Linked DNA regions of Homo sapiens: all the other regions are linked to region 1. The links come from fine-mapping of genetic effects on gene expression. A gene starts in region 1. Each other region holds a variant in brackets. All regions are shown on one strand. Distances are between the middles of the regions.

Region 1 (8,404 bases):
CAGGTTCAAGCAATTCTCCCACCTCAGCCGCCTGAGTAGCTGGGATTACAGGAGCATGCCACCACGCCCTGCTAACCTGGCCAACATGGTGAAACCCCATCTCTACTAAAAATGCAAAAAATGTATTGCTGTTCTTCGTGAATGTTACCACCATACATACTGCCATCCAAGTCAGAAGCCTTGATTACTTCCGTTCCTTCATCTGTCTTCTGACTCATCTTCCTTATTCTATCTTACCTCTCAGTCTAGTATCAACATAGCAGTGAGTCAGATCATGCCACTCCTCTGCTCAAAACCTTACCTAGTAAATAAGCCAACCATATGGTATGTTAGAAGTATATATCAAATAGAAGGGTCAGGGTAGGCTTTATTGAGAAGGTGGTATTTGAGCAGAGACTTGAAGGAGATAAGTGATATAGCCAAATGGACATTTAGGGGAAGAGCATTTCTGGCAAAAATTCTTTTAAAAAGAAGGATGCCTGGAGGTTTTGGAGAATAGCAAGGAAGCTAATATGGCTTCAGCAGGGTACCACAAGGGAGAGAGTGGTGAAAGATGAGGCCAGAAAGGAAACAGAGGTCTGATCAGTTTGCTACTCATTACATTCATACTACAATGCCTCACTCTCCCTTCTCTATCTGCTATCCCACCACTATCCCCTGCCACACACACATGCACGCACGCACGCACGCATGCACATCGAAAGGCAAATGTTCTGGATTTGATTTCCAACAATCAAGGTCCTTATATCTCAGCTTTTTTTTTTTTTTTTTTGGTACCATTTCTAACACTTGAAGTGTTTGTGAGAATCGCTTCCAGTCACTCTTCTCCATTTGTCCACTTTAATGGACCAGGTCTGCATGCTGAATGTTTCAGGTAGTAGGAACTAAGGGATAGAGACTATGAATACCAAGCCAGTAAGAGCATCAAACATCAAGATAAGAACACACAGCCTAAGTAACACAGTGAGACCTCATCTCTACAAAAAAATATAAAAATTAGACAGATGCAGTGGCATACACCTATAATCTCAGCTACTCGGGAAGCTAAAGTGGGAGGATCACTTGGGCCCTGGAGTTGGAAGCTGCAGTGAGCCATGGTTGCACCACTGCACTTTAGCCTGGGCAACAGTGAGACCCAAAAAAAAAAACTATATATATATTTTTTTCTCATATATATATATATATATATATATATATATATATATATATTAGAGAAAGATACTGATGGAATAAATAAAAGGATACATGTATGAATGAGCTCTGGATTCCCAGCATTTGAAGCATTTTGGAGTTCTCGGAAGAGAAAATGGAGGATATTAAGGGAGAAAGAAACAACTCAATAGGCAGACCAGTACTGAAGCAGAATATATTCCAGGGTGTGGGTCTGAAGCTGAAAGATATGTCACCATGCCTGTCTCATCCCCAGGGAATATATACTAAGCTGTAAAATTATATCGAATCCATTTTTTATTTTTTGAGATAACAGTAAAAAGGACTCAAAAGAGGATATAGAAGGAAGCACTATTTAACCAGTTTCATATTATAGCTAACTTCTTTTGATTCCATTTACCCAAAATCATGACCATCAACCTTCTCTTATATACATACCCCTATTTTTTACATAGTCTCCTCATTTATAGAGACTAGGCTACAAAGAACTATAGAAATTCCATGAAATAATTTCTGTAAGGAAAAAGGGCAGAAAAGGCAATGAAGAAAAGATCTGCTTTAGAATTTCCCTATGACCCAGCAGATGGTGCAATAGGCACATTACTCTGCCTTCCAGACAGGCAGAAAAAAATGAGTGCACACAGATGGTACTGGAACTTCACTGTTTATCCTTGCTAGTTTTGTTTGTTTGTTTTTCCTAGGTGAAACACTCCATTCCTGAAGAACTGTTTCCAAAACCCTTCCTTTACCAAGACATGAATATTTCCCTACTTGCTGACTATTCCTAGGAAAAAGCAGATTTGAATTTGAATTCTGTCTTCTCCACTTAACAGCTAAGTGACTTGAAACAAGTTACAGATTTCATCTGAGCCTCAGTTTTCTCATCTGCAAAATGGAAATATAATATCTAGATAACAGGGTTGTTGTAAGAATTAATGAAACAATGTACACCCACACACAAAGCACTGTGCTTGTCATAAAAAGGAATGTAATTTTCATTCTTCTGCCAACACACAGAGAAAGGCACTCAAAAACCTAGAACATGGCACATACCATAGAAAAGCTTTTCTCCTGAAACCTATCATCTCCAAGTGGAAAAACCACTAACCAAACCCATGATGGAGGAATCTTCATGTCCAACTCTGTTACTATGGAGCACACACTCTAAAAAAAACAAGAAACTGTTTTGAAAGTGACTTTTGTGATAATCTAGTCCTACTCTTAATAAGTAATTCTCAATGGGGAGAGAAGAGACCAAGACGCATATGTAATATGCTTCTTATTTTCATGATACAAACGAGGAAAAAAAGCCCAACAAAATTCTAGTTGGTGAGCATATCCAGAAAACAACGTAATGAAAGAATTAATTTTTTCTTTAATAGTAAAAAACTATTCATATGATACTTGACAATAAATTCAGTTACTTCACAAAGAGCTCACTGCATTTTCAGTCAATGCAAATATTAAATATTTCTCCCTTACATCAAATCAAAATTTATCTCCCTTTTACGAGCAGCCAAAGGTCCCTTGTTCTGTTCCCTTTCCCCACCACCCCACACATGCTGATATTTACAAATTCACCTTCACTCTTGTTCTCTCATGCAAGAGTTAGTGGTTCTGATGTCCCACACTTTTCAGCCCTTCTTTTCTCTCAGATCCTCCTCTCCCAGAGAATCTTCCTGAAAAGCAAATACAGAAGAGGAGCAAAGAGTGGTAAACTACAGCCTGCAGTTCATAGCTAGCTTGTCATCCATTTTTGTGTAGCCTACAGGATAAAAAGGTTTTCTACATTTGTAAGCGGTTGAAAAAATATATGATATGTGAAATTATATGACATTCAAAGATCAGTATTGATAAATAAGTTTTACTGAAACATAGCCATGCTCATTTGTTTACATATCATCTATGGCTGCTTTTATGCTACAATAGCAGAGTTGAGTAGTTGCAACAAAAACTATCTGTCCTGCAGAGATAATATTTTGTACCATCTGGCCCTTTACAAAAAAAAAAGTTTGCTGGCCCCTATTTCAGGAGAACACTAGCCCCAAGAGCACGTTCACCTGGAATAGTCTTCTCTCACAACCCTCTCCTCCCTTCGTGACAACAGCTGGTTCCTGCAGGAAATCAGTCTTCACTCAGCAAATTCCACCCCCCTTTACTCCCACAGTCTCAGCCACACCTTTAAAAAGTCATTGTTCTGATGAAGCATGAAAACCTGGCCCAATCAGATGTCCAGAGGAAACACGGCTACAGAATGGATACTGACTCTGCAGCCCTCTGGGCAATTCTTAAAAGAAAACACATAGCCTAACAATAGTTGAATTTGGAATCATGTAATTTATCACTTGCCAACAGTTGCTACCACACCTTCTCAAATCCTGATGACCATATTGCACAAGTTTTAAGTCCATGTAACTTCACACACCTTCAGTGAAATTTGTGTTATATGTTCACAATGGAAGAAATGCAGAGCGAGGGCCTCAGAAAAAAGCAGAAAGCCACTCATTGATTCTCAATGCTAAGATTCCGTTTATATTCAGGTAAAATCATGTCCTCTGAGGCAAAGATGGCAAGAGAGAGGGCAGACCCTAGTCCTCCTGTGAAAAGATGGAAGTTGGCCAATGCAGAGGACTATAGTCTTGATCCTTGCTTCTCTTTCAAATGAATTCAAACTGACATTTATTGGAGACCGTTATGTGACAAGCAGTATACTAGGTCTCCAAATGACATAAGGATAAATAATGTCCATTCCTTATTCTCAAGGAGCTCATAGCCTAGAAATGAAATAAGCCCATAGACAAATGTGTGTGTCTGTGTGTGAATGTGTGTGTTTGTGAAAGGCAAGGATATACAACAAATAACTAACAGTAGTTATTTTTGGCTAGTGGCTTTAAAGGTATTTTGATTTTATCTTATTTGCTTATCAATATTTTCTAATTTTTATATTAAACAATAATTGTATAGTAAAACAATTTTTAAAGATTACAATATAGTATGATTGATACAACAATAAATATGAATAAGGTACACAATTACAACTCCCTCTTGAGTAATTCAGGAAAGATTTTCTATGGGAAGCCTAAATTGGATTTTGAAGAATAATTAGTTCACTAGGCAGACAATGAGGAAAGACATTCTAAGAAAAAATATGAAATAACATATCCCATGGTATATTGAGGAAGTTTGAAATATTACTAGTTAATTACTGTTGGAGTACAAAGAGAAATATGGAGGGGAGAAATGGAGCTGGAAAAAAGCCACAGCCCAGATCATGAGGAACCATGGATACCATGCTAACAAGCACGCATTTCTTCCTAAGGTTATATGGTGTTTGAAATGAAAGCTATGGTGATGAATGGCCAATAAGGGGTCTGGTAAATTGAGGTACTTAATGAGTTAAAGGATGGCCTGGAGCCATTATCCAATTCAAAAGGTAATAACAATACCAAAGATGACACTTTGGCTGGAATACCATTTAAGAACATTTAGCTTAGAATGGGAGAGTTTGACTAGATGATCTTTACAGTCCTTTTAATCATCAATTTCCATGATTTTTTGACATTTGGGCCATGATGTCCCTGCACACACTCCATTCAACTTCTATTAAAATCCACACAATTTGTTGTCAATATATTGTGCTAGATAGTTTGATGAATACAAAAACAGGCCTTTCTGCAGTGTCCTGACCCTTTGGCAGGTGGGGCTGAGAGTAGCCCAGATTTGGGAACTGCTAATGCAATCTTAGGTGAACCTGTAAGGAAGTCAGGAAGAAGGTAAACACCTGGGAGGTGGAGATAGAGGTGGAGATGGGCTTGTTTAGGAGTAAATTAGGACATCTCAAAATTAGCAACTCCTCCCTAAGAGGGACCATTATTCCCTCTATAAAAAGGCCACTCTGCCCAACTCGCAGCACCCTGAAAGCTGTTTCTGTCTCTACCCTACTTGTTCCTCTGGTGAGCTAGGTAAGTGAGCAGTTCAACTCCGCTCAAGGGTACTTAGGGCTATAAATTATGAAAGTCCAGGATGTGCTCTAAGGCAAAGAGGCACTAGATACAAGGCTTCTTTTTAGTATACTCTGGGGAACTTTGGTATAAGTTTAAATTTACTGAAAAGAAAAATGAAACAAAGACTAGGACTATGTATATTATCTCCTTTCTTTGAGGTCGCTTCCCTTATAACATGGATATCATGGGGTTCTAATTATCCACAGGCAGGTTGCCTTCTTTACAACTGAGCTTTTCCTCTCTATTGTGTAATAAGGTCTGAGGGTCACTTCCTGCTTGGAGAATGAGAACAGAAGCTGGATCTAATAGCAGTTACCCTTAGCTTCATATCACCTAGGCTTGTTGGCTTTGCTCACATTGTCTATTTTCTCTGACCTAGAAGTCTTGAGAGTTCAGTTCAGCCATTGATGCTCCTTAGGTTGAGTAAGGCATGTCATGTAGATGATGGACCTATGCCCACAGTATGCTTCGAACCTAGAAAGAGGAAGCAGATGAAGTGGAACACTCAGGACTTCTACAGCTCCAGAACAAAGCTAATATTATCCCTGGTAATGGCAGGAAGCCAAAAACAGAAAGTCATTTTTCCTACATTCATTCAGGAATGGAAATAAGACCTATGGATTATATTCCTAATTTCATCACTCTCTTGCTACATGGCTTGAACAAGTCATTCAACTCTGAATTGGTTCTTGATTACAACAGAATGAATTTAATCATGACTGACTAATTCTGAACAATTATTATAAATAATTAGAACTATTTATGTGTTTAAACAAGAAATAAGAATAGTAAGGGGTTGGTCTCTCTTTTTCCTCCCTTTAGGTTACTCAAACTTGCAAAAAAAAAAATGCCTAAACTCCTACAAGGCGTCATCACTGTCATCGATGTTTTCTACCAATATGCCACCCAGCATGGGGAGTATGATACGTTGAACAAGGCAGAGCTGAAAGAACTTCTGGAAAATGAGTTTCATCAAATTCTGAAGGTAAGAACTCCACGCCAGGATGGAGTTATGCAGGAATTTTCTTCTTTATCCCTTTCCACCTTCTTGTCACATATGTCAAACATCCTAGAGGATTGTCCTTACTTGGTGAGAGAGAACAGGGTTTGGTAAAAGTTTGAGATAAGGTCAAAAGCAGATCCGTGATGGTTTCCATAGCATAACTAACGGAAGTGACCTTACTAAACAACAAACAAAACCCACAGGTTAAATAATGTCCTATCTAAGTGACTAATTCCTACAAACCCAGACAGTCCTCAGAAAAACTGTGAAGTAGATTTCTGAGTTCAGGAAATTGGCATTTACTCCTGAATCACAAAAGAATGTGTCCACCACCTTAAAACTGTCAGGTCTAGATTTGATAGCTTAGATATTTGGGACCTTATATCAGACTCCTGAGTTTCAATTCCTTAAATTTGGATTTCTGTGGATTTCAGATATGATATTCAGATATCAGATGTCAGATATTCAGTGTGTCAGCTATGAATCTCATAATCTTCCCCACTAACCTTTTTCCTTCATCTTTTTGCCCAAAGCAAAAACCTGGTGTCATTTTTTATTGTCTCTCTCTCAGCAGACACCACTACCTTCTAACCTCCATCTAACTCATCAATAATCTCTCAAAACAACCCATTTCTCTTCATCACTATTATTAGTCCTCTGGTTCAGGCCACCTACTACTTCTACTCTCAGCATTGGATGCAAATATAATCATTTCACTCCTCAGCTAAAAATCCTTCAATAGTTCCCAATTGCTCTTAAAATGAAGTACAAAGTTCCTTAACATAACTTAAAAGTCATAATCTAGTCCCTATTTGTCTCTCTATCCACATTTCTTGACTCTTCAAACTCTAAATCTAGCAATCCTGAATTTCCTTCAGTTCCTTGAATGCTCCATAACTTCTCTCACCTCTAGCCCTTTGTTCATATAATTCCCTCTGCCTAGAACAATCTTTTCCCCTTCTCTTTCTCTTCCTACTTCTTCATTTGGCTAATCCTAATCCATCCTTCAAAAGGCATCATTTCCTCTCATTAACCTTTCTAGGACCCCCAATGTTTCCTCTCTGATGTACTCTTGTAGAAACCTTACCACAATAAATTATAATTTTAAGTTTGTATATCTGGCCAACTAAACTTTAAATTCCATTTTTTTTCAGGAAGCAAACTTGTTCACTTCTTTATACTCTCATATGACATAATGGTAGGCAACTAGTAAAATAATAAATCTTTGTTCAGTGAGTAAATTAAGTAGCTAGTTAATTTAATTGGATAAATAAAGTTGATATAATTAATGTAGGTATAAAAACATATTACTTATAAATTAGCTAATCATTCATATTTGACCCATTCTTTACCAAAAATAATCAGCCCTCTTGTTTCCTTTCATCTTCCAGTTGCATCCTATTCTAGCTGTTTCCCACCACATTATTCATTCCATATTCCTTTTTCTCTTTCTGCTCAGGATACAGAAATGCAGCCTAAAGGACTGTGTGAATGAGTTCCATATAAATAACCCAAACATTTACATTTTCACATCTTTCCTTCAGTTCGTTAGCCAGATGTATTGTCCATACTAACAGAGCTACTCTTTGTACCTTTCTCTTATACAGAATCCAAACGATCCAGATACTGTGGATATCATCTTGCAAAGTCTGGATCGAGACCATAACAAGAAAGTGGATTTTACTGAGTATCTTCTGATGATATTCAAGCTGGTTCAGGCTCGTAATAAAATCATTGGCAAAGATTACTGCCAAGTTTCAGGGTCAAAGCTGAGAGATGACACTCACCAGCACCAAGAGGAACAAGAAGAAACTGAAAAAGAGGAGAACAAACGGCAAGAATCCTCTTTTAGTCATTCAAGTTGGAGTGCAGGAGAGAATGATTCCTATTCCAGAAACGTCAGAGGAAGTCTTAAACCTGGGACTGAATCCATATCCAGAAGACTGAGTTTTCAAAGAGACTTTTCTGGCCAACATAACTCCTACTCAGGTCAGTCTTCCAGCTATGGTGAGCAAAACTCCGACTCCCATCAGTCTTCAGGCCGCGGCCAATGTGGGTCTGGGTCAGGGCAGTCTCCCAACTATGGCCAACACGGCTCTGGCTCCGGACAGTCTTCCAGCAATGACACACATGGGTCTGGCTCAGGCCAGTCTTCTGGCTTTAGTCAACACAAGTCTAGCTCAGGGCAGTCCTCTGGTTACAGTCAGCATGGATCTGGCTCAGGTCA
Region 2 (8,404 bases), 110 kb before region 1:
GGAGATCCAAGCATTTTTATGAAAAACTCCCAAATGGAATTATTTTGTGTGGCAGATCTCCAAGCTTTGGTCAGCATTTCTGGCATATAGGATCAGTTTTCTATTATGAATTTGGCTCTTGTCAGCCTTCTAGCTAAAAAATATGATTGCAAAAAAGTCCATTTCACTTAGAGAAAAAAGTTAAAAGTTATTCATAAAAACAAGAGATTGAGCATGATGACAATGTCCAGGATGAAGGTAAACCATAGTTTTCTCCGTATTTTTTATCCATTTAATGAACAATTATTTCTACAGAGAAGTAATTCTCAGTAGAATCAGCAGAAGTGATTCTTGAGGATTTCTGCCTCAAGTCCCCTTTTTGCTCTTAAAAATTACTGAGAAACATGAAGAGCTTTTGTTTATGGGGATTATGTCTACCAATATTTTCCATATTAGAAACTAAAACTGAGAAGTTTTTAAAGTATTTATTCATTTAACAAGTCCATTACATATTAACATACCATATTTTTATTAAAATGTAACTATTTTTAGAAAACAATTAATGAGAAGAGTGGCATTGTTTTACACTTTTGAAAATCTCATTGATGTCTAGCTTAATAGAAGACAACTGGATTATAGTACCTAGTTCTGCCTTCCAGCTGTTGTGACATCACACATCTAGAAAACTCTACTGGATACTTGTAAGAGAATGAAAATTAAAAAGACAAATAATATCTTAGTATTATGATGAAAGTAGTTTTTACTTCACATGCACCCCAAGACTACATATTGAGAACCATGGCTATAGAAAATTCTAGTAAGACCTTTAAAAAGTGTAACTCTATTATTTTTTGCAAGGTCTTTAATAAGCATTCTAGGCCTTGGACCCTCTAGGTGAGAAAAAAAGATAAAAAGTGAGGAATATGAGGCCAAATTTTGGAAGAAACTAACATTGATTGAATGCCTATCATTTTCCAGGTTTTGGACAAAGCTGAGTTTCTACTGGTTTTCTCAGAACTCAAAGAATTTTCCAGCCTTAATCACTGACTATTTCAAAGTTTATCACCTTCCTCCAATGAGCTAAAAAAATCACAGGCCTAGCCTACTGGCTTAGGGATTTAAACTTGCTGTTGTAACACCAATAAATTCCACCTCAGCTCTTTTTTTAAAAAATTATCTGTTGTTTGTTTACTCTGTGCCAGACAGTGGTAAAGGGCTTTACATGAATTATTCCATTTAATAATCATATTAACTTTGGTAATCAAATATATATTTTATAGTTGATGAAACTTGATAACTGTTTTTTGTTTTGTGTTTAGGAGTTTGATAAATGGAAAGAGAAACAGGACAGGGCAAAAAAAGAGCCTCAAGCCTCAAGGATTACTTTTAACAGAAGTTCACAGCTGAAAGGTCACTGAAGATCATCTAGGTCAATGGCTCTTAACCTTTTGCTGTTTTCTTGTTCCGGAACTATTTGAGCATCCCTCTCCTAAATGCCCTTCCCCTCAAAAAAATGCGGAGACCCACTTACAAATGTTTCCTTATAATTTCAGGGACTTTACAGACCTTTCAAAGTACACTCATAGATATTGCCAGGTTAGGAACCCCATGATATTCCCTTTATATTTCATCTGAAAAAAGTGAATTCCAGTGTCACACAACCAATAGATGTCAACTGTTAATCAGAACAACACTGCATACCATATCCCAGACCAGGGCTTTTCCTACCACCTCATGTTGTCTTTTGGAAATAGAACCAAAGGGAAATGGGTTAGTGTAGGTGTAGCGGAAGTTAAAGGAGGACTTAATATGAGAGCCCATCTTTTTAAGTGTTATCAATGTTTTTTCTTATTTTTTAATATAGACACGTTACATAAACATGCACCAGGTATGGTGGCTCAGAGGCCATGGCAGAAGGATTCCTTGAGGGCAGGAGTTTGAGACCAGTCTGGGCAATGAAGTGAGAACCTGTCTATACACACACAAAAAAATAAAAAAATTAGCTGGGTTTGGTGGACTGTACCTGTTGTCCCAGCTACTTGGGAGGCTGAGGTGGGAGAAGCACTTGAGCCCAGAAGTTGAAGGCTGCAGTGAGCTATGATGGTGCCACTGTTCTCCAGCTTGGGCAACAGAGTGAGACCCAGTCTCTAAATACAAACAAACAGACATGCAAGCCTGCTAGTAAAATAAGCCAATATATTACTGTAAATAAATAAAATTGTCATCAAAACTATTCTCCTATTAATTATATGCATGAAAATTACTGAACACATCATTATTAGTTCATACCATGCATTCATTCAACAAAAACATGCCGCAAATAAAAAACGTTTTAAAAATTGATTTTAATTATGAAATGATACAGAAATATATTCTTCCTTTGAAAAATTAGAATATTTGTAGATATATGCTACAGCCTCCTCTGACCTTCATCCCAAATCCAATAACTTCTTTTCTGTACCCAGGAATAATCACTGAGGAATAGGGCTTGATTCTTTCCAGAAAACTTAAAGATATTTTTATAGACATGTGTGTACACACAGAAAACACCTAACATTTAGTGTACATTTTTAAGTGGTATGTTTAAGTGAGAATGCAGATATCTCTTCAACACCAATTTTAATTCCTTTGGCTATACACTCAGAAGTGAAGTTGATGGCTCATATTGTAATTCCATTTTTTTTTAAAGACCCCCATACATTTTCCAAACTGACTCAGACAACTGGTCATCTTAACATGCTGTATTTCACAATTTATTCAGATTTTCTTTTATATCCTTTTGTAAGTTTTTTTCCTATAAAAGTATTTCACTTTTTCATTAGGTTTATTTGGGGGTTTATTTTTGTTGTTAATACAAATGGAATTTTTCTATCATATTTTTGAATTGGTGATTTCTATTGTATAGGAAGCTGTGAACGTATTCATTCTGATTGTGTATTTGACTATCTTGCTGCACTCTTATTATCTTTGAATGTTTGTCAATTAATTTTGGGGGGTTCATTTTGTCTGAAACTGATGAACAAATTATCTTTCTTTCAACATTGATTCCACATTTCTAAATTATTTATTGCGGTAAGATACACATAATATAAAATTTATCATTTTAATCATT[C/T]TTGGTGTACCATTAAGTAGCATTAGTACATACATATTGTTGTGTAACAGTCAAAACCTTCCATTTCCAGAAATTTTACATCTTCCCAAGCTGAAACTCTGTATCCATTCAACAATAATCCTCCATTCTCCCTTTCCATCAGCAGCCATCATTTTCTTTTCTGTTTCAATGAATTTGACTACTCTAGGTACCTTATCTAAGTGAAGTCATACAACATTTGTCCTTTTGTGTCTGGCTTCTTTTGCTTGGCATAATTTCTTCAAGACCCAACTGTGTTGTAGCATGTATTGGAATGCCATTCCTTTTTAAGGTTGGATAATATTTCATTGTATGTAAATACCACATTTTGTTTATCCATTAACAAAACGGACATTTAGGCTGTTTCCACCTTTTGGCTATTGTCGATAACACTGCTATGAACGTGGGTCAAAAAGTATCTGTCCAAATCCCTGCTTTCAATTGTTTTGGATAACTACCCAGAAGTGGAATTGCTACCTCATTTCTTATTGATTAGGACTATCTAAATATTAGTACTCATAGTAGGCATCCTTGTCTTCTTTCTGACTTCAATGACATTGTTCTAATGTTTCAGTATTTGAAGTAGAGTATAATGTTTGCTATAGATTTCTGTTAGATAGCCAATATCAGATTAAGAAAGTTCCCTTCTATTCCTAATTTGCTGAAAAGTTCTACTACAAATGAGTTTAAAATTTTATCAAATGTCTTGTTCAATCTACTGAAAGGATTATATGTTTTTTTCACTTATTTTTAAATGATATTAATTGATTTTCAAAAGTTAAACAGATCTTGGAATCTTTTGGTAAACTCTATTTGGGAAATAAATTTGGGACACTCCTGGAATTGATATGCTAATATTTTATTAGGATATTTGCATTCTGTGTTCATAAGTGAAATTAATCTATAGTTTTATGTTCTTGGGCTTTCACTATCTAATTTTTGTACCTGACAAAATTGGTTGGGAAATTTTCATTCTTTTCTGTGCACTGGAATAGTTCATGCAAAATGTGGATTTCTTAAAGGTTTGGTAGATCTAGCTAAAACTAGTGGGTGGGCCTCCTGACTTTGGAGTTTGAAACAGTCAGTCTTTCATGGTTGAAAATAGAAAGTCAGATATAGATTCCTTGGCAATTGACATTTTCTTACTAACTTATCCATTTTGTGTTGATTTCAACATTACTGGTACTTAGTTGTTTATAATATTCAATTTTTTCAGCTTTTTGAAGGGATAACTGACAATAATATTCTATTTTTAAATCATTAGTTTATCTGTAGTTATTTTTGTTACTTTTTACTGCTCTTTAACCCTTTGCAAAAGGTTGCAAAATATATTATGCCTTTAATTACCAAAACACTTTACCTTTAATTCTATTTTAATCTGCTGTTAACTGCATTAGTGTTTGCCTGCCATATCTTTTACATCCTTCTCTTTTAATCTTTACTTTGTCATTTGTTTTAGGTGTGTTTTTAATAAACAATATATAGTCAAATATGGGTTGTTTATTTATTTAATTGGAGTTTATCTGTTAATAGAAAAAATCAGCCAATCATTGCCTTTAAAAAAAATTTAAACAACCTATAGAAAAGGCAAAGTATGAAACAGGATGGCAGAAATACTATGTTAGTTAAATGAACATAATTAAAATAACATAATTTCAAAAATGTAAATAGCCTAAACTAATGAAATAACAGAGACATTTATAGTTGATAAAAACTACAAAAAAGATTCAACATGTTGTCTACAAAATACATGCTTAATAATTATATACATATTATATATAATTACATATATAATCATATATAATTAATTCAGATTGATAACAGGATGCAAAAACTATTAAAAATCACATAACCTATCTTTAAAATTTGTCACATTAATATACTAAAAAAATTAAAATAACATGTTCATCTCAATGCAGGAAATACATTTGACAAATCTCAATGCATATCAAAGATAAAAACTCATACTAGAAATAAATGGAAATTTATTAATATATCAAAAAATACAGTATACCTTATAATTAATGAAGAAATCTTAGAGGCATTCCCTTCAGAAACAAAATCAGGAGCAATATCATTATTAGTGTTTGCCATAGTGGGGTGCCCTGCCCTATGCTATAAGGAAAGAAAGAGAAATAAATACATTGGTAGAAAAAAAAAAAGAAAACAAATGACATTATTTGCAGGTAAGATAATATGACTCTCTAGCTAGAAAAAAGCACCTAATCAACAAAGTATTACAACTAATAAGATAATTCAGCAAGTTTATCAGAAACAATCAAGTTACAAAAATTAAAAGCACTTTTCTCTCCAACAATAACCAATTACAAAATGTATTTAAAAATAAGATATCATTCAGAACAGCAACAAAAAATGTTAAATAACTAGAAAATAATGACAACATATAATACTTCCATGGAGAAAATTTTTAAATCTAATAAATGACATAGAAGATTATCTGAATAAATGGAGTGACATTCCATATCTTGGGGGAGATGACTTAATATTATAAACATGTCAGTTCATATTAATCTATACATTCAACACAATCACAAATACTTCAAAATATTTGTGTTGAATTTCTTGAGAAGTTCAATAACCTCAAGTTTTTATGGAAGAATAAAGATCCACGAACAGGTAAGTCAACATTTCAAGAAAAAGGCAAAGAATGGGTACTTGCCCTTCCAAGTATTAAGACATACTACACAGTCAAGTAATAATAACAATGTGATATTATTGCAATGACAAAAAGATCAGTGAAACATGATAAGGAGCTTAGAAATTAAGTATGTTTATATGGGAACTTAATATATAGTAAAGTGGGTACCATATATCAATGGGAAAAGGGCAGATTAATAGAAGGAGTTGCAAACCTGGCTCATGCCATAGATAAAAACAAAATTGGATATTTACCTAAAGTCACATACAAAGATAGACTGCAAATGAAATAAATATCTGAATGTGAAGCTTAAAACAACAAAGTAAAGAGAAGAAAATATGGGAAAATACCTTAGTAATCTCAGCACAGGAAAGAACATTGTAGATAGAACTTTACAGGCACACATAATACAAAACTAGTGATGACTTTTATTACATCATAATTAAAGATTTCTGTTCAGTGAAAGACACCACGAACAAAGTTAACAGAGAGAAGACACATTGAAATTATTTGCAGTGTCTAAAAATAACAATGTACTAACGTCTAGAACATACAATGAACTTCTTAAAGTAAAAAAGAAAATTAACAGAAAAATGGACAAAGTATTTGAACAGGCAATGTATAGAATAGGGTAATCAAAATGGCTTACAAATATACATAAAGATGTTCAAACTCATGGATAAGGGAAATCAAAATCAAAATAACAGTGAAATGAGCTGGAAAAAGTTAGGAAACTAGATATTGCTAGGTGTTGGCTGGGATGTGGGTTTAGGAAATCTCATGTACTCCTGGTAAGAAAGTAAAGCTGTTCTGGAGAGTTATCTGACAGTATCTAGTCAATATCAAGTATACATATAGCCTACCACCCAGAAATTCTACTTCTGTGTTTATGACCCCCAAAAATGTCTCCCAGAGATCCATAATGGACATATGTAAGAGGATGTTCGTCGCAGCATTATTTTTAGTGCTGAGGAATTAATTAGAAGCAATTTGAGTGTTCATCACCAGGGAAGTGCAGAGGTATACTGAGTAGATGCAAAACAACAGCACAATTAGAAGCAATGGACTAGACTTACATACTGCAACATGGATACTAAATGAAAAAAAAAGGTAAAAAAAAGAATGAGATCTAAAAAAAATAGCACTTACATAAAAGTAAAACTCTATGAACATAAAAGTAACAATAGATACTTTACAAACACCTGTACAAGTTAAGCCATATACAGTAAACTCATTAGAATAATTTATCTGTTGAGGGAGGAGGAGAGGACTGGGAATAAAGAATGGGGATGAAAGTTAACCAACTCTTCCACAGAAGAGTCTGCATAGCTCAATAATTACAATGTGCCATGAAATAAGGAATATGATTAACTCACATCTCTATACCTAGGATTTAAAAAAAAAATTGATATCCTGAGTGCTGATGGTCTCAAGTCAGCAAAAACTCTGGGGCCAAAGTCTATGAATGGTTAATTTTGCAAGCTCACATAACTGTCTGCTACAATAGAATATCCTTGGTGAAAGCATAGGAGAGAATAAAAGGGCTGAGACCTAAGAACAAACAGATTCTGGATTTCTGACTTCAGAAGACAAAGGAAAAGAAAGACAAGGAAAATTGAATCATTTTCTAGAGGGGTGTTAACTTAAAAATTACACAATTTATAAATTTTGAAAGGAAAGTTATATTTCTCATAGAGGGTTACAGTTGCAAAGTTGACAGGCAAATTCTGACAAGCTGGGAAGCCTGGCCTCTGGCTGACGCCAGAAAGGCAGGTACTTCAAAAGAGGAGGGATTGGGATAGGAACTTTATGCTGAATGGGTTGACTAAACATATTCAATGGATTACAGAAGGAGCCATGAATATTCGTGGTCCTCCTAATGCACACATACTGAATAAATGTACATATTACATCTGACCAATGTTCACCTTGGGGTGGAGACTTAACATTTAAATATATTATAATAAGGCTTTATAAGGTCGTTTCAGGACACAAACGCACTCACGTATGCAGCCTTTGTAAACTGGCCAGAATCCGTCCACGGTCGGTGGTCTTCTTATCAGGAGAAAGTTATTGAAATAGCCTCTCGTCTAATCAAAGCTGTAGCTATAGTTTGTGAAACAGGGGGATGGAGTCAGTGTCTGGCAGTGAATGAGCTACAAATTGTTTTCATATTGCTTACCTGAAGGCCAGTGCTTGTTTAGCTGCTGAAGAAAAATAGAAACCTTATGGCATTTAGAACATAGTTTATTCTTTAAGTGCAGAAGTGTGTGACTTAACCCTTGACTGGCATGGTCTTAGCTCCTGTTTACAATTTGGTATCTTACTGCCACAAAGAGTCTGTTCTATCAGTCTTACATTCTCTATTTTCACATCAATGCTGGCCAGTTGTGTCTAAACACTGCAAAAGGGAGGGTATATAACAAGATATGTCTGACTTCCTGAGCCATCATGGCTGGGAACTCAGTTTTTAAGATTTATCTAGGGTCCATTTGGCCAAGATTGGGGTGGGGAGGGTCTGTTCAGTCAGTTGAGGGCTTTAAGATTTATTTTTAGTTTACAGGAGGAACCATGTTCAGACTACCAAATAGTTTCCAATGCTGAGCAGGGCTAGGGCCACAGACACACACTCCTGT
Region 3 (8,404 bases), 35 kb after region 1:
GATAAAGAAATTTCAGAATATTTTAAATGAAGAGATGGTTTTGGTTCTGGAAACAGGTCTGGGAAAGTATCAAGGAATAAATGTAAAGAGGGAACCACATAAAAGGAAACTTGAGGTTTAGAGTCCAAAATGGACCCATATTGAAGGGAAAACCCAATATATTGAGACCTAAAACCTCTTAAAGATAGAATTTGAAAAGTGACCTCTCTTAAAGATAGATCAGAATGATGAAAAGGAAGACAAGCAAGAATCTAAGAAGGGAACAAGAATAATTGATAATTTCAGATGTCCTCTCATGCCATTTTAGGGCTAAGAGAAACTCAGGGGTCTGAATTTCTCCAACAAGCAAGGCCAAACATGTGAAACCAAGTTTTCCACTCCACAGCACTGAAGGGCCTCTCTACAGGGTTTGCAGTCATCTTGGTGACACTAAGAAAAGGAGACACGTGTCCTCTCAGCTCTGGGATTCCCATACGTACAGACAGGTTTGTGGTGTTCTTATTCACCACTCCTCACACTCAGTCTGGGGCAAGGGAAGAGCACAGGCCCAGCCCATACACTACAACCTACTCTACTTTTTCTCCAAACTCCTCTCCACTCTTGTTTAGATGGTCTTTTTTCTATTCTGGATAGGGGTGGAGTAGAAGGAAAAAAATGTTCCCAGTAGCGTCTTCTTTCAAACTTTAATGTCTCATACCTGCACCTTGCCTTTTGAATTTAGAAGAGAAAAATATTGATCTCTTTGTCTGCGGATCCCCCAGTTTGGACTAAGGGACCCTCAGAATAAATCTGTGCAAAACCCAGAGGGGGACTGGGAAAGACCTCGTTCATACATATCTGGCCATGGTTGTTTTTGTAGCTCTAAAATATTTCATTTGCATGTATTTACAAATTCAGCAAAATAAAATTACTTTAAAGTATATAATAAATGACATCAAATCCACCTTTTCTCTGTTGATGGGGGTGAGGCAGTAAAAATACCAAGTGCCTGAAATGGTGGGGCACAGGAACACAGGGATGAAAAACGTTTTATGGTTAAACAGTCTGATAAAACCACCAAACCCTTCTGCCCCACCTCAACAAGACACACTCTTGAAATGAAATGTCCCATTGTGTTTACAGAGAGGGAGAAACAGACAGTGAGGAAGGAGAGGATGGGAAAGTAGAGGAAGAAGGCTTTTTCTGCCTTAATAACAATGTTCAAAGGTTTGCCTGGCTTCACACTTGATTGTCTTCTCCCTCAAAAAAGCAAAAGCAAGGTAGCAACAGAGTTCTTTCAGTTTTCTGTGCAGATTCACATATAGATAACTAAGTAGTAATACTTCCTTACTTGTGTCAAAGAATTTGTGTGCACATTCCACTGGAAATAATTCCATCTGGACCTGGTAACTCCCTTTGGGGTGACTATATCTCCTGCAGGAACTCAGTCCTCACTCAAAAAATCCCAAATTTCCTTCAATCCCATACCCTCAATCACACCTTGCAAAGGTCATCCCTCAATGAAGTCTGGCCACCTGTTTCAGATCAGCAGCCCAAATGGCAATAGAGCCTATGTTGTTTCAATGGCCCACTAAATATTAACAGCTAATAATAGCTAATATAGCTAATAATAACATTTGATGAGCATTTACTATATGCTAGCACTGCTCTAAGAACTTCCCACATATTAATCCTCACAATAACTCTGTAAGTATTATTCTTACCCATATATTATAGATGAGAAAACTGAGAAACAGAGAAGTTAAGCAGCTTTCCCAAGGGTACACTGCTAGTAAGTGGCTGAGCCAGAATTTGAGCCCAGGCAGCCTAACTCCAGGGACCATGTTCTTAACCATTACATGATTCTTCCCCTTGGAAGAGGACAGAACAGATAATATGATGGTTACATTTAGATACACACAGTTTACAATTTGCCCATGGCCCTGGCTCCCAATAACTTCTCATTCCTTTAGCCTCACTGTTCATGTTTGATGTTTTCTGTCTTCATATTGAAAATGCAACACGTTACATTGTGTTAACTTGGCATAATGGAGTAAAAAACAAGGCTTCAGTGGGAATACAATCCTCATGTAAAGTTTAAGAATGGTCAAGACCTGTACTCATGTCTTCATCAAAATTGACTCCAAGTATCCAACTTAGCAGACCAAATGGATGGTGTTAGCACTAACAGAATTCAAGAATTCAGAAGGTAGAATAGATCAGGTTTAAAGAAATAAACTTAGCTCAGGGCATTCATTCATTCAACAAATATTTTTAAAGCATTGAATGTGTATCTGAAACTGTTGTACATTCTGGGCATTCAACAAGGAGGCAGAACAAGTCCTTGCCTCCTGGCAACATTCATTCTAGGGCACACTAGAAAAAACTGAAAAAGTAAATAAGTAAGGAACACAATGCTGTGAAAAAATAACCAAGGGAACCTCTTTCATATGGGGCATTCAGGGACAAAGCAAATTTGAGATGATCAAAGATAGGCAGGTAGATATACAGATCTTAATGACACATTGTCATTGTGCCTTCATGCCAGCTTCCCAAGAACCATAAAATATTTAAAAATAATTTATGATGTTGTAATGCAAACTTCTCAAGCTGATGCTCCAGGCTCTGCTCCAATCCAGCCCTGCCTATCTATCCTCTTCCCACCACCACTCCCAAACACATCTTCTCCATTCCACTTAGGCTAATCTCCTTACTGGCTCACAACATAACAAGTTCACCCCCAACCCTGTTCTCTCCCCTACACCTGTTAATTCTACCCATCCCTCAAGACCAGGCTCAAGTTCCACCTTCCTCATTCTTACCCACTCAGGCTTACCGAACACCCTTCTCCTTTAAACAACTAGTTCCCAGGCAATTAATTACGTAAAAATAGTCTTCTGTCCTTCGCGGCTGTTTCACATATGCCATAACCCAGGACTTTTAACACAAGGCACCACAATATCCTCCCAGCAAGTGTAGGCATGAAGGGAAAGGGGTGTGGCACATGTCCAGAGTTCCCTGGGCCAGAGGTGAAGAGAACTGACTCAGGCTCAGAGAGGCAGCTCAAGGGGAGCAAGCACAGCGAACAAGGGGCACAACTCCCAAATAGGAGCAATGCAAAGTCTCCACTCAAGTGGAAAGATCAACAACTGAGACTACAAGAGACAAGGAGGCAGTTCTAGAGGGGAACTAAGGATCCAGATGGGATATCTAATTGAGGAGTGAAAAGCATAGCATAAGCTCAGTCTCATAGACAAGTTCAACACAGGATAAAGGGAGTAGAGACTTGGGGGATAACCAGAGGCACAACAACTGTCAGCAAAAGGAATCCAGTGAAATTCTGGAACCTACAAACCAAGAATGGGTGACCAAGTTTAAGGACCTGACCTAATTCTAAGCTGTAGGTACAGATTATCAGTGGGCTTGTCTTGGGGGAAATGGGGAAAGTAGATGAAAAAGAGATGAAGGCCAAAATGGTTATGTATAGATTATTTGTCCCTTACGGGCAGGAGACAGGCTTTATGCCTCATTTCTATCCTCCACACCAGTTAGCAAAATAAATATTTACTGATTATGTAAAAAAAGAAAGATCACAGAGAATTTGGTATTACCCAATGATGGGAAGTATGCCAAGATAACCTTAGTCATGATTTAAGCAAGTTATGTATTGTGAAGTCTCCATCACCCTAAAAACACCAAGTGGTAATGTGATCTGGTGAATGAACACGACTGGAAATGAGGACATGAAACCAGACCAGTTTTGTTAGAAACCTCTTATGAGACCCTAAACAAGTTACTTTACTTATCTGAACCTCAATTACCTCATCTTTAAAGGAGTAAATGTAATAACTCCAATTTTTTCATATCTAGAACACACTTCCCGCCAGATCTGACTAATTTCCTCACATCTTTTGAATCTTTGCTCAATCTTGCCTTCCTAATGAAGCCTATTTAATACTAACCACTCTATTTCATACTGCAACCTGCCCATCCCACCAACCCTACCCACACACACAAACACTGGTCTACATTTTTTCTTTTTCATAACACTTCTAACATTTTACATAATTTATTATCTTTATTGTTGTGTGCTAGAATGTGATCTCTATGAAGGCAAAGATCTTTGTCTATTCTATTCATTGATATACTTCACATCTCTGAGTGGAAACTGGAACAGAGTAAACATCCAATAAATATTTGTTGAATGAATACATGAATCGATCTTTAAAAAGGCCAAAATCTTGTGAAAGACCAGAATAATAAATCATTTATATTCTCCCTGAGACCAGGGTCGGCCTCCCACACCCTCAGGCATCCCTATATCCCCTGGTACAGTGTACCATAGTGTGGAATAAGTATTCAATACGTCCCTACTAAATTACTAATTAAACATGGGACCCAAAAAGACAAACATAACCGCGTGCTCTGGGGCCACCTGCTGGCAACTCTTAGTAGGTACCTAAGCAACCAAACTGACAAGAATTTTCAGTGATGAATGGAGTGGCAGGGATTATCTCCTTTCAGCCAGTGAGAACAATCAGGCAACAGACGGCAACAGGAGGAAGGAGGGTAGGCTGGAAATCAGACGTTTCCAAAACCTGCTGTGAAGGACCATACACCCACTGTTTCCCAGAACTCACTTTCTACTTAACAATAATAACGGTAAGTACCCTGTACTGTTTTAAGCACTTTCATGTATCATCTCATTTAATCCTCACATTAATCCGCTGTACCATCTTTACCACCATTTTATAAATGACCAACATTTCCTTTTGAAATAATTACTTTACTTACGTGAAGCAGTGAAGCGGTAAAACAGTGTAAACTATTATTAGTAAGAAAAATCAAGGCATGACTTTTGGGGAGTACCAAGGCACCATGTGCGGGCAGAATGTGACACGCCTGGAGAGGACCAACGACGCCCCAAGGGGGCTGACCTACCAGCCCGCCCCTCAAGCCAAGCACAACCTCAGTCCGGGGTTCTGGATCCCAAAGTCCGCTCCGTTACATTCGGATCACACCAGAACAAGGAGGCAGCCCGCGCCCCGGCTAGCGAGCTCTGCGCCAGGGGAACGCGTGCCGGCGCCCTTAAGCTCCCAAAGCCCCTTCTCGGCGAAGCCGCCGGGGGACGCGGGCCCCGGAAGTGCAGCCCCTCCGCCCGGAAGCAGCTTTTCCTACTTCCCTTGGCGC[G/A]ACGGGAGCCTGTGTTCACCAGTGCTCCGGCTGAGGCCAGATTCCTGAGGCCGTTCCTTTCGCTGTTTCCGAACGCACAGCCCCGAGAGGCCGGAGGGGATACGAAAGACCTAGGCCGATGGCCCTTCCACACTGCCGCCCCTCGGCTCCCCACCTCTACCAAGGGAGGCCACTGATGTCAGATTCCTCTGTGTTCTGGGAGGATGTTCTGGCCGAGGTCCGCGACCGGGCCCAGCAGCTGCCTGGGGCAGTCCCCGTGATCCTAACAGAGAACGGGGCCTCGGCTCGCAGGATCCCGCTCTGGGCTCCAAGGGCTCCTCGTATTGTAGGAGCTTTCCGCAGCCCCTCTAGGCGCTGGGACCCTTTGGTGGGATAACGGCTAGGGTTCCCTACTCCGTCCAGTGCCAGCGTCCGGCCTCTGAAAGACTTTCCTCAGCCTCCACCTTATCCCGTAAATAAGGACTTCAGGTGACCTGCAAGTGCGCCCCCTGCTGGCCCGTCGGACTCCCACCACCTTGGTTCGCCCCAACAGCCTTGGCTACATGGTTTCCCAAATGGAGTACCAAGATAGTCTTAAGTGCTACATGCACTTTTTAAGAATGTTTGAGTATTTATTCTTATTTGTGTTAGAAAATACTAAAACCAGCCCAACAAACCGGTTATCTCAAATATTAGTGTAAGGCTAAATTCTTAAGTGAGTAGTTAACATTGGTTCAAAAATATTAGGCCGGGCATTGTGGCTCATGCCTCTAATCCCAGCACTTTGGGAGGCCGAGGTGGGTGGATCACATGAGGTCAGCAGTTCAAGACCAGCCTGGCCAACATGGTGAAACCCCGTCTCTACCAAAAATACAAAAATTAGCCGGGCATAGTGGCACGCACCTGTAATCCCAGCTACTAAGGAGGCTGAGGCAGGAGAATCTCCTGAACCTTGGAGGCAGAGGTTGCAGTGAGCCGAGATCGCGCCACTGCACTCTAGCCTGGGCAACAGAGCGAGACTCTGTCTCTAAATAAATAAATAAGAATATTATTATTATATATACACAGATATTGCAAAAATCTTGAAGGTGGTACTCAGATGACTAAAGGAGAAAACTCAGTCTCACAGAGTCAATCAAGGGAAAAAACGGGTGTGGTAGTTAATTTTATGTGTGAATTTTGTAAACCAAAAATTATCTGAGACGGGTCTCAAATCACCTTAGAAGTTTATTTTGCCAAGGTTAAGGACCACTCCAGAAACAGGTCTGTGCTTTCCCCAATGATAATTTTTTAGGACTTCAATATTTAAAGGGTGAAAGCAGGGTGGAGAAGAAATAGGGAGGGTAGGGTCACATTACTAAATCCACATATTGCAAGATAAAAGGAGAAGAAGGTAAGGGAATAGTCAATTATGTTTCCGTCTCATGCTCAGTAAATCGGTGCTTTACACAAGGTAGGGTGAACATAGAGTGGAGATATTTAATCTTTTATCAGTAGCTATGGGCCTAGGAACAAAAGGAAAGGCCGTTGCTTGCATGACTTACCTTCTGCTTAATTTTTTTCTTTTGGCATAGTGAACTTCCCTTTCACATTTCAGAGGATATTTTTAGATGGGATTAACATTTAAATCAGTAAACTTTGGGTAAAGCAGATTGCCCTCCCTAATGGGGTGGGCCTCATCCAATCAGTTCAAGGCCTGAATAGAACAAAAAGACTAGCATCCCTGAGCAAGAGAAAATTCTCCAGCAGACTGCCTTAGGATTGTGTATAATCAGCTCTCCCAAGTTTCTAGCCTGCTGTCCTACACTGCAGATTTTAGACTCTCCAGCTTCCATATTCACATCAGCCAATTCCTTGTAATAAATCTCTTTCTATAAATACACATGCTGTTGGTTCTGTTTCTGAGAAATCCTACTAATATGGTGGGTGATCTTAAATAGTCTTCCCTCTCTGACACTGAGTGGAGCTTCAAGGAGGACAGCAGAAGAAAGAGGGCTTGACTCCAGTATCCAAAGTGCTGAGGGCTCACCCTAGGACCTATTCACTGGGCATATTGCTGTAGCTTTACTTCTTCACTCCCCCTTCCCACCAGGTCCCTTGGATGCCAGGTTCTAAAGCACTCCCACTGCTCACTCTTCCTGGAAAAGGGCATTGTGGTGGAATGTTGAAGGAGCTTGGCAGCCAAATCAGCATATCCAGTGTCGTGACTCAACCCCTTCACAGCTCGCAACCTTAGTTTATCAAAGTCCCTTCCCTTCTCTGGAATTCCATTGTATCTGTATGATGAGAAGGCTTGATTAGGTGATGTCTAAGGTCTCTACTAGAGGTGAGCGCCTTTTCCCCACTCCTGGCCTCTTTTCACTCCTTTCTTCTCCTTGCCCCTGAGATGGTAGAAGGACTTAACTGGTTGGTAAATTTTGTAAGAATAATTGGCTTAGCTCTACTCTGCTTCTACTTGGGAACTGCAGAGATCCCTATGGCATAATAGGGACTTACTCTTAGGCAAGGATGCCCAGGCCTGTCATGATTAGGTGGGTAAGTTAGCCTAATTCTCAGTTCTAGTATGAGCAAGCCCCAGCTAGCAGACCTAGCGCTACTAATGTCTTACTTAATCACTATCAATAAAAAAGATGACATTTTGAGCACCACATTTTCTTTCTATTTTTCAGTACAGTTCAGAACAAGGGCAAAGAAATAAAACAGTTCCGTTTACTGAGATCCCTTTGCAGAACACAGTAATTCCTTCTAGCCCTTTCTAGCACTTATTAAACAAGACAATATAAAACATCTAATGAATAAATTCACACTAAAGGGCTAATATAACCCTTCATAGGCTATTTATACTTTAAAAAGCACTATAAGAAACAGAAAAAGGGCAGTGCTTTATGGTAGACATTATATAACTATACTACCTCAGTGGAAAGTATATTTTGGAGTAAGACCTTTTTCAGGGCCTCTCAAATTACACCCGTCTGTTCATCCGTCAACAGTTGTTAAGAAAGTTAAAAGTAGAGATTATGGAGTTAAATTGTCTGGGTGCAAATCCTGCTGATGTCCCTGACTAGCTGTGTGGCCTTGGGTAGGTTGTTTAACCTCTCTGTGCCCTAATTTTTCCATCTACAAGATGGGGATAATAGTAAGAACTTGAAAGACACTTGGTAAGCACCATAAAACTTCTATTGTGTGTAAGACACTGTGTTACTCCTAAATCCCCCAGGACTTTGCCTCTAGAATAAAATCTATAGAACCAAGAAAG

Which allele goes with the higher level. Alleles are on the strand shown, and positions count from the first base shown. SD is a standard deviation of normalised expression in the study named. Not every link is listed here.
As copies of A replace G in region 3, the expression in prefrontal cortex of the gene that starts at base 5,082 in region 1 goes up (moderate effect, 0.61 SD a copy in CommonMind).

Evidence for each region. PIP is the estimated chance that this variant, and not a neighbour inherited with it, causes the effect.
Region 2: its variant is fine-mapped to the expression of HRNR in esophagus mucosa (GTEx, PIP above 0.99).
Region 3: its variant is fine-mapped to the expression of HRNR in prefrontal cortex (CommonMind, PIP 0.95).

Annotation. Positions count from the first base shown.
Region 1 is chr1:152,220,871-152,229,274 of GRCh38, reverse strand. It overlaps HRNR (hornerin), which reads left to right and starts at 5,082. Exons shown (of 3, transcript NM_001009931.3): 1 at 5,082-5,132; 2 at 5,997-6,159; 3 at 7,785-8,404. The coding sequence starts at 6,022. The region is part of intron 1 of CCDST (cervical cancer associated DHX9 suppressive transcript); the gene reads right to left.
Region 2 is chr1:152,334,809-152,343,212 of GRCh38, reverse strand. It overlaps CCDST (cervical cancer associated DHX9 suppressive transcript), which reads right to left. Exons shown (of 8, transcript NR_186765.1): 5 at 7,774-7,874; 6 at 5,124-5,224; 7 at 2,003-2,126. Among named protein-coding and RNA genes, the nearest start is that of FLG, 14 kb to the right of the region's middle. The variant C/T (reference allele first, on the strand shown) is at 3,092.
Region 3 is chr1:152,186,025-152,194,428 of GRCh38, reverse strand. It overlaps CCDST (cervical cancer associated DHX9 suppressive transcript), which reads right to left and starts at 5,126. Exons shown (of 8, transcript NR_186765.1): 1 at 4,948-5,126. The variant G/A (reference allele first, on the strand shown) is at 5,170.